3 linked regions of the Homo sapiens genome follow. The protein of the gene in region 1 interacts with the protein of each later gene in a pairwise test. Each region holds a gene or a part of one and is shown in the gene's direction. Other genes may lie near its edges.

The links.
Region 2: the proteins of NEK7 (region 1) and PRAM1 interact in binary tests that used the Homo sapiens proteins (3 or more experiments, as listed by UniProt).
Region 3: the proteins of NEK7 (region 1) and DNASE1L1 interact in binary tests that used the Homo sapiens proteins (3 or more experiments, as listed by UniProt).

Annotation. Positions count from the first base shown.
Region 1 is NC_000001.11:198,292,914-198,296,644, forward strand, and holds part of NEK7 (serine/threonine-protein kinase Nek7), read left to right. Parts: exon of another isoform or gene 1-25; intron 26-31; coding exon 32-126; intron 127-3,731. UniProt on the Homo sapiens protein: Protein kinase which plays an important role in mitotic cell cycle progression. Required for microtubule nucleation activity of the centrosome, robust mitotic spindle formation and cytokinesis.
Region 2 is NC_000019.10:8,492,563-8,496,293, reverse strand, and holds part of PRAM1 (PML-RARA-regulated adapter molecule 1), read left to right. Parts: intron 1-3,731. UniProt on the Homo sapiens protein: May be involved in myeloid differentiation. May be involved in integrin signaling in neutrophils. Binds to PtdIns(4)P.
Region 3 is NC_000023.11:154,400,736-154,403,495, reverse strand, and holds the end of DNASE1L1 (deoxyribonuclease-1-like 1 precursor), read left to right. Parts: intron 1-114; coding exon 115-227; intron 228-305; coding exon 306-554; intron 555-654; coding exon 655-789; 3' UTR 790-2,260; downstream 2,261-2,760. Other genes in the region: RPL10 (large ribosomal subunit protein uL16), read right to left, coding at 2,473-2,760.

The DNA of each region.
Region 1 (3,731 bases):
CTCTTACTTTATTTGGTTTGTTTTTTTGCAGTTGGTACGCCTTATTACATGTCTCCAGAGAGAATACATGAAAATGGATACAACTTCAAATCTGACATCTGGTCTCTTGGCTGTCTACTATATGAGGTAGGTAATGTTGATAAATTCCAAATATTGATGCAGTTTTACTTAGTATATTTCCTCTATCCTTATAGTATATACTTACTTTTTTCTGGATGTTTAAGAATCACCTTTTTAATTGTGAAGAATTTTCGTTGGGTTAATAACTTTGTATAATGGAATTTAATAACTATACATTCCTACACATCTAATATATTTTTAAATTGTGTTCTTTTGATGAGAAGTTTATTTTTAAAGCATTAACTTTTATGTTAATATAACGCCTTTCTCTATATCTTGCATTTGTAAAAATATACGTTTGAACATCTGTAAATCTTGATCCATGCATTACAGGAGTGGCATAATGGATTGGATTTAATATATGAAAGTATAGTAAATATTTTTATCAATATTTTATTTCACTTTTACACAGGTGTAATTTAGCATTAAGGATAGTATGCAAACAGATAGTTCTTCTAGGTTATCAATTTAGTTTCCATGAGTAACAATTTGTATTGGTAAAGCTCAGTGAAATACTCTCTCTTTTGTTCTACTGGTGATCATTTATCAAAGGAAGATGGAATCATGTAGGTAGGTCCTCTAGAAATGTTGCACTGTAATAATTTGGGTGGATAAAAGAAAGCATGTTAGTAACACATTTTACATCTGTGTTGGTATAAAAGTATCTCAAGCTAGTGACTTCTGTAATTTTGTTTTTTTAATTGAATGATAATTTTCCTAGGAATATAGGCTTCGAGTCAAAGCTGTTAATTAAAAATTAGTCTATATCTAAGTAGGTTTTAATAAAGTGAGGAAATGTAATACATGGAAGCATTTTCATATCCCTGTGTAGGAATCATTTTCATATCTCTGTGTATATGAGAGAAGTCTAAAGAGGATAAATAGAAACCAATGCATTTCCTACTATATATATTTCCTGTCTCTTGTCCTCCAGAATTAAATGAAATATATGATGAAATCATCTATTTTAATTGTACCACCATTACTTGGAAGTAGAGCATTAGGAGGTGTTTTTTGACTCTTTAAAAATGTATGTCATGATCTTTTATTATTTTATTCATTGCAGATTCAAATTTCCTTAATTTAAGGAACCTGAAATTATTTGTTTTGTCCTTCCTACTAAAGTGACTAACAACTACTTAAAATGAAAGGATTTTTAAATATTCTTAAATAAACTCATACTTTGGATAATTTTTGTTATGAAAAATTATGAGTCAGTAATGTAACAAAACATGTTTTTATATGTGCACGAGATTACAAGAAATTACGCTCACTGTGTTATATTTTGTTAATAATTTGGTACAATCCTAAAAAGAACTGGATTGTTTATATTGTTACTATAATGTTTAAAAGTTAGTCACTCTGTACATTTAAAATATTTTATATTTGTTTAGTTAACCTTAGATTCCTTTAGGCCATAGTCTAATATTATCAAAGCAACATATTCTCTTCAAATCCCTAAAAGTAAACAGCAAATTGGTTTCCAATAACTAGATTAAATTTAGCAATAAAAAAGAAAAAGTTCTGTTGAGGTAGTAAGTGGTTTTTGAGAGGAAGTTTGCATAATTCTTTTAGATTTAGCATACTCATGTCAAAACTGAAATAATTTATCACATTTTGAATTTGCCTTTGAGAGACGGTGTCCCATTTTTGTATGGACTTAAAATGCCACAAAAATAAAAATAACATCTTTGGACATTTCTACATCCATGAGTTATATGTATTGTGGATGATTTTGAGTTAAAGTATTATCATGCTAATGTTAGTTTTCATCTCAACGCATTTTCTTGATTTCTCCATGCAAATCTTTTAGAAGAACTAGAATTTTTCTAAAGCTTTAATTTAAATTTATGTTCTATTTCCTTTCAGTTGTGTTTCAATGTACTGTTAATAGAAATAGCTAACAGTTTGGCTTTTAAAAATTGGTCATAACATCACGTATTTTGTATTGTACCCACTAAAAAATTACTATTAACAATGAAGACGTAGGAAGCCTTTTTTGAAAATGTATTTTAAACTCAGAAAATTAGACTTTCAAATATTCCTGAAACCTCAAAAAAAAAAAAAAACTAGCAGTACAGTTTTAATTGATATGCAACAAAGTAGACTTTACTAATTAAAATCAAGATGCTGTGCTTTTGCTACACGGACCTTTACATGGAAAAGTAGGTTTTACACATTTCCTTTATTGTTCAGCGCAGCAATTGCATCCTTACAGGGTTGTAGGTTGGTGGCTTACAGTTCAAAAAAAAAGAGAGCTGCCACCAGCCCCGAAGACAGACAGTGGGCTTTCGTCCCTCCGACACCCCCAGAATACTAATCAGGAAAGTCAGACCCTGGAGGTCAGGGAGTAAGTCAATCATTCTAGCGATCGTCTCAGTGTGGAGGATCAAATTAGCCTGAAAAATTCAGCTGCTGGGAGGAGAGGGCGAGCAGCTGTCAGGGGCAGCATCGAGATGCACTAATGAACCAGATGAATAGTGCAAAAGCTTGAAAATAAAAACAGGACAGTTGACATTTTTCATCTGTCAAAGCAGGAGATGCATGAAAATATACTATTCCTGTTTAACTCCTTAGGGGACATTCAGATTTTTTTTTTTTTTAACACTCTGCAGTACTGAGAAAAAGGACTATAATGAACGCCTAGAATATGATAATGAATATATGTACATTTACTTAAGGTTTTGCAAACACGGAGAGACTATAGTTTATATATACAGTGTATTTTTAAGGTAAGATCTTAAAGTGTCCTTGCATTTAAAACAAAAACCACTATTATTATTATTATTATTATTATTATTATTATTGTGGTTCTTTTAGAAATTTCCTCTCAGAGTGTTTTATATGATTAGGGGCATTCAGATTGTTTTTAACTTTTTTCTCGTCATGTGAAACAACTCTTCCTAAGGTACTTCTATATAGTTGTGTGCACGTTTTATGTAAAACATAGGCAAGATAAAAATGTGTTGAGCTACTTTCCAGTTTTGATTTCCAATCCCATCCCCTTCTCATCAAGGCTCTGAAGGAGTTAAAGCTCTGTCTGGAGCACAGAAGACAGATGAGAGCCATTTTCAGCTTGTCCTGTCCCCACTGACGCTCACTGAGTAGCACAGCATGGACTAGCGTGTTTCACACACACTCTGCCTGTCTGGGGAATGTACACATTGTCCTTCCAAAATCAAACTTATTAGCACATGTAGAAAAGGGTGACTGACTTTGGGGCAGCCTGGCACTCCGTGTTGTATTCTTGCTGCTGTGGTTCAAAGATTTAGAAGGTTTTGAACAGGATGCGAACATTTTAAATTGAATTTTTAGTTTGTAACACTGCTTACCACAGTACTTGCTTGCACTTTAAATGTCAAGTTAGAACCTTGTCTTAAAATAAATTTAAATTCGATAATGTCTTTTTTAAAGTTGTTCATCCTTTGGGTCGTGTTTTTCTGCATAAAAATCTCATTTGGAAGCCTTGAATTACAGCTATGACTCATAGAGCTTTTGAACATATTTAATTTAATGTTTTTGAGACATTATCAAAAGAGTTCTAATTCATTGTAAACTATTTGGGGATCAGTTATTGCATTTAAATTGAAAAGACTGCTTTTTCTCAGAAT
Region 2 (3,731 bases), on another chromosome or scaffold:
TACAGGCGCCCACCACCATGCCTAGTTAATTTTTGTATTTTTAGTAGAGCTGGGGTTTCACTACATTGGCCAGGCTGGCCTTGAACTCCTGACCTCGTGATCCGCCCACCTCAGCCTACCAAAGTGCTGAGATTTCAGGCGTGAGCCACCACGCCCAGCCTGATTTACTTAGACCTGTTGTGTTCAAGGTAGCTGAGGGGATGTCCAGGCAGAACTTGGGCCTGAAACTCAGGGGGAGGTGTGGCCTGCAGGCAGGTGTGGCAGTGGCAGGGGAGGGAGGCTGCCAAAGGTTTCTTAGAAGTTTGTGCTGGGTGAATAGGGAGCAGGCCCGCACCTCCTGCCCAGCTCCACAGTTAATGCCTTCATGAAAACACAAGCAGCTTCCAGGCAAGCACCTTGCCTGCCTGTCCCTAAATCTGTACCCTCCACTCCCTGCATGTCCCTAAATCTGTCCTTAAATCCGTACCCTCCACTCCAAAGTTAATGCCTTCATGAAAACACAAGCAGCTTCCAGGGAAGCACCTTGCCTGCCTGTCCCTAAATCTGTACGCTCCACTCCCTGCATGTCCCTAAATCTGTCCTTAAATCCGTCCTTAAATCCGTACCCTCCACTCCAAAGTTAATGCCTTCATGAAAACACAAGCAGCTTCCAGGCAAGCACCTTGCCTGCCTGTCCCTAAATCCGTACCCTCCACTCCCAAATCCCCACAGGGCAGTAAGGCAATGCACCCCCATTTTACAGATGCACAAGGCTGGCCCGGCGTGGCAGCTCACACCTGTCATCCCAGCAGTTTGGGAGGTCCGGTGGGCGGATCACTTGAGGTCAGGAGTTCCAGACCAGCCTGGCCCGCATGGCAAAAACCCATCTCTACTAAAAATAAAAAAACTAGCTGGGGCCGGGCGTGGTGGCTCACGCCTGTAATCCCAGCACTTTGGGAGGCCGAGGCGGGTGGATCACCTGAGGTCAGGAGTTCGAGACCAGCCTGAACAACATGGAGAAACCCCATCTCTACTAAAAATACAAAAATTCGCCAGGTGTGGTGGTGCGTGCCTGTAGTCCCAGCTACTAGAGAAGCTGAGGCAGGAGAATCGCGTGAACCTGGGAAGGAAGGGTTGCAGTGAGCCAAGATCACGCCATTGGACTCCAGCTTGGGCGACAGAGTGAGACTCAATCTCAAAAAAAAAAATGAGTCGGGCATGGTGGCATGCACCTGTCATCCCAGCTATTCGGAAGGCTGAGGTGGGAGAATTCCTTGAACCCGGGAGGTGGAGGTTGCAGTGAGCTGACATCGCGCCGCTGCACTCCAGCCTGGGTGACAGAGTGAGACTCTGTGTCTGTCTCAGTTGAAAAAAAAAAAAAAGGCCAGGCGCAGTGGCTCACGCCTGTAATCCCAGCACTTTGGGAGGCCAAGGCGGGTGGATTGCCTGATGTCAAGAGTTCAAGACCAGCCTGGCCAACATAGTGAAAACCTGTCTCTACTAAAAATACAAAAAATTAGCTGGGTGTGGTAGCAGGCGCCTGTAATCCCAGCTACTTGGGAGGCTGAGGCAGGAGAATCGCTTGAACCTGGGAGGCAGGGGTTGCAGTAAGCTGAGATCCTGCCATTGCACTCCAGCCTGGGTGACAGAGTGAGACTCCATCTCAAAAAAAAAAAAAGAAAAAAAAATAGGTACGCAAGGTTGAGGCTCTGGGATGGGGCTTGCCCTGGCTTGCACAGCTGGTCCACGAGCTGGATCTGTGGCAGGGCTTTCAGCGGGGGCCAGAGCTTGAGCTTCTAAGGTGCTCCTGCTCTCGCTGACAGCCTCAGAGGGCCTGGGGCAGAGAGGCCCCCTCTGCTTCTCCTGGGCTTTCTCCCTGAGCTTCTTGCAACACCTCCCTGTGAGCACACAGCTTCCTGGTGGGGCCCCTTCTGCTTCCGCTCTAGGGGAGGCTCTGTGGCTTGGGTCTGGGGGCCACCGTTGGGGATGCGGATGGCCAGGAGTGGGGCTGCTGAGCGCCTGGGCTAGTGACAGCCTGCCTCCAACCACTCCCAGAAGCCCTGCTGGAATCCCCCACCTCTTCCGAGGCTAGGAGCATCTGCCTCTCCTCAAACTTCATACAGTCCCCACCCTTGGCCCATTGTTCCTGTCACCAAATAACCTTCTCCCCCTTCCTTGCCAGTCATTTGAGGTTCTGATAGGAAAAAAGAAAAAAGGGGCCGGGCGCGGTGGCTCATGCCTAAAATCCCAGTTCTTTGGGAGGTGGAGGCAGGCGGATCAGTTGAGGTTGGGAGTTCGAGACCAGCCTGGCCAACATGGTGAAACCCCGTCTCTACTAAAAATACAAAAATTAGTTGGACATGGTGTTGCACACCTGTAGTCCCAGCTTCTGGGGAGGCTGAGGTGGGAGGATCGCTTGAATCCAGGAGATGGAGGCTGCAATGAGCCGAGATTGCACCTCTGCACTCCAGCCTGGGCAACAGAACGAGACCCTGTCTCAAGAAAAAAAGAAAAAAAAAAAGGTCCCACTTCCCTGGATCTCCCGCTTCTCAGGAGTGGCGTGGGCTTCTCACTGTGGGTGCAGCTTCTCAAAGGCAGCTTAGGTCTCTTGGGGCCAGGACTCTGGACTCCCCTTTCCCACTGTCTGCCTTACTTGGAGCAGTGGCAGCTCCACTGCAGAGGTTCCTGGAAGGCAGGGGGCTCCTCTGCAGGTGGGGAGAGCCCAGCCTTTCCCAGGGATCTGAGCTGGCCATGCGGGGAAGGCGGGCAGAGGCCTGCTCTGGGTCAGCTGTGGATGAACCAGGGCTGCCTGCATGGCGGTGCCAAGAGGTGCTCTAATGTGGCGGGTTTGCAGGGACCCTGGAGTGCCAAGGTCAGGTTCGCTCCTGGTGGAGTGACTGCTCACGGCCAGGGAAGCCTCTGAGAGGCAGGAGCAGCTGGAGGGGCTGTGTGTTCCAGGTGAGACTGTGGATGGCCATGCCTGGTATCTGGCGGGCACGATTCAGGTGCTGCTCCTTGGGCTGCTTGGAGGGACTACAGGCCTGAAATGTCCGGCGGGATACTTTGAGCCATTCGGAAAGGACATGCTGGGGCTCTGGGTTCTGGATCTTTCACTCACCAGGGTTCCTGGGGCTCCCACCTGAAGCCAATTCCTTGGCCAGCAGGGCTCTGACTTGGGAGCCTGGTCATTTGCCAGGAAGTGGCACAGGGAGACTGGCACCATGGGAGACCCCTCAGTCCAGAGTCTCATCATCAGTCACCAGTCCAGGACGCTTACCCTAGCAGCATCTTTTAAAAATTATTTTTATTTACTATTTTGAGACAGGGTCCTGGTCTGTCGCCCAGGCTGGAGTGCAGCGGCGCCATCTTGACTCACTGCAACCTCCAGCTCCCAGGTTCCGGCGATTCTCCTGCCTCAGCCTCCTGAGTAGCTGGCATTATGGGCGCCCACCACCACACCCGTCTAATTTTTGTATTTTTAGTAGAGACAGGGTTTCACCATGTTGGCCAGGCTGCTGTCAAACTCCTGACCTCAAGTGATCTGCCCGACTTGGCCTCCCAAAGTGCTGGGATGACAGGCATGAGCCACCATGCCTGGCCATGATATTTTACTGTCAACTATCATTGCCCTCCTGTGCAATGGAACACCCAATTTCTTCTTCCTAACTGTAACTTTGTACCCATGGGCCAGCCTCTCCTCATCCTCCCTTCTGCCTTAGTTTTTCACCCAAATCTCATTACAGTAGAACCCC
Region 3 (2,760 bases), on another chromosome or scaffold:
TGTGGGAGCAGAAGGGGAGTTCTGGCTGGCTCCACTGGGGGCTTCCTCACCCAGACGGGCTAGGGGGAGAAGGTCCAGGAGTGGATGGCAGCCCTCGGTCCCTGGGCCTTGCAGTCCTTCCCAGCCTGGTGTTGGTCCCGCTGCACACCACTCCTAAGGCCGTAGAGAAGGAGCTGAACGCCCTCTACGATGTGTTTCTGGAGGTCTCCCAGCACTGGCAGAGCAAGGTAGGCCTGGGCAGTTTGTACAGGAGGGACAAGGATAGGGTGGCCCAGCGGCCAGCCTGATGGCTGCTGTGTCTCTAGGACGTGATCCTGCTTGGGGACTTCAATGCTGACTGCGCTTCACTGACCAAAAAGCGCCTGGACAAGCTGGAGCTGCGGACTGAGCCAGGCTTCCACTGGGTGATTGCCGATGGGGAGGACACCACAGTGCGGGCCAGCACCCACTGCACCTATGACCGCGTCGTGCTGCACGGGGAGCGCTGCCGGAGTCTGCTGCACACTGCGGCTGCCTTTGACTTCCCCACGAGCTTCCAGCTCACCGAGGAGGAGGTGAAGGGATGGGGCTGGCATGAGGAGGGAGGGCAGCAGCAGGGTCACAGGGAAGCCCCTCGGCCCCGGGCACTGACACTGCCCCACCACCCATTCCCAGGCCCTCAACATCAGTGACCACTACCCCGTGGAGGTGGAGCTGAAGCTGAGCCAGGCGCACAGCGTCCAGCCTCTCAGCCTCACTGTTCTGTTGCTGCTATCACTCCTGTCCCCTCAGCTGTGCCCTGCTGCCTGAGCGTCCCCCTACCCCCCCAGGGCCTGCTGCCTTTTGGGACTTAAACCCCAGCCTCCCCCGTCCATCCAGCCCTGGGGCTGGGGGGCTTCAACTATAGTTGCCCTGTGACTGTAGTCCACCCCTGCCTGCCTTGTTTGATTTGGCTCTTGTTCTTTGGTTGGGCTTGTGCCTAGATTAGGAGAGGAAGCCAGGGGCCCTGCACTCATGCCACCTGCCAGGTAGTGTAGTATCAGGAGTGGAGACAAAGTGGGCTCTGGGTTGGGGTAGGGGAAGGGAGGGTTCAGAAAGAGGAATGAAGATGTTGTATGACAAGAAGGAAAGTTACTGAGAACAAAAACCCAGATTGGTGAGATAGGACACTTGTGCAGCAGATATGCCAATGGGCCATGTTTATTGTGGATTGGTAAGAATCACCAGGAAACCATTAAGCCCCAATAGCTACAAGGAGGGTGGTTAATCTGCTATATCAAACTCCTTCCCTGAAACCAGCAAACACCGGGAAACATTTTGGCTCATTATAATCCGGTGAACAATGCAGTCAGGCCTGTTATAACCGCTGAGCAGCCACACTCGCACCTCCTGGGTGCTGTAGTCTGTGTTGGTACAGGCTTCTGCATGCCTGGTAAAGTCCAGCCAAGGCTGGTCAAGGCAACATCTCCACACAGAAAATCTGCACCAGTTATGTAAGCTAAAAAGCTGTGTGAACCCAGGTGTCCCGGAAAGGGGCTGCAGGACACAGCAAAATGCCAGCAGCATGCCGGACCCCTCCCTTCCATCCTCCTCTCCAAAGAAGAGAGGTCAGGAAAAACACTGGCTGGGACGCTAGAAGGGTCATGTGTTAACTATAATCACATTTATGGTTTGGAACCATCACCCCAAGGTAAAAAAAAAATAAAAGGTATTCCCAGGTATGTTTGGCAAAATAAAATAAAGGTAATTAAAAACCTAAGAAATGGCTGTAAACTGAGATTACAAAAAACCAGAGGCCTTTTGGGAGCCACAGGCTGGGGGCTGGGGCCAACATACCCCAGCTCTGGGACCAAAAGCCTTTGGAGTCCTGTCCCTGGATACAGATGCTCAGGCCACCCACCTAGCACTCCTCTCATTTTTGCTGCTCCCCCAAAAGCCAGCGCTGTTCTACAATAGTTCAGGTCAGACATCTAAGATCCCCAGGCCAAACCATGCCACACACGTGTCTGTTCCGAGGTCTTGTTACAAATGACCAAAGGTTAGCCTAGACCTTTGGTCAGGTGGTGAAGGCCCTGGGAATGCAGGTTCTAGAAGGGGTGGGGGCATGGGGCCCAGGAGGTTGCTAGAGATAGGAAATGGGGCAAATCGCAGGTGACCTCAGCAGTACCTGGATGATTCCCACCAAGGAGGAATGGCCAAACCAGATGGGTGAGAACAAGCCCAATGTGATGCACACCTACCCTTGCTAAATAAACGCTGCTGGTCAGCCTCTAGCCCACAAGCCCCTCTTGGTCCGCATGTGTTGTAATAAGCAACACAACTGTAGGCTGACCCCAGCCTGGGATTGCAAGGCTTTGCTGCAGCTGTGCTTCATGAAAAGCACTTCAGTGTTTTTCAACCTACTGCCTAGGACCTGGGGAGGTCCAAGTCAAGCTCCAGAGTAGACAACTGACATAAGGCCACCAGTCCCAGCCCTTTGCAGGGTTTGCTGCCTCATGAGCAGGGCTGAGTTGTCAACCTGTTTCTGAAGTGAAAGGGCAATGACCCAAAGGTTCCCAGAGGAAGTTCCTTCCCCGTCAAGAATGTAGATACAAAGACATAGGTGGACAGGAAGTAGAATTTATTGGTGAGTATTAAGAGGGGGGCAGCACATTGGAAGCCCTCATGAGTGCAGGGCCCGCCACTTGTCCAGAGGGCCACGACTGGGGATGTACTTGACCCCACAGCCATCTGGGATGAGCCGCTTTTCAGCCACCATGTCTTCAAATTCATCAGCATTGA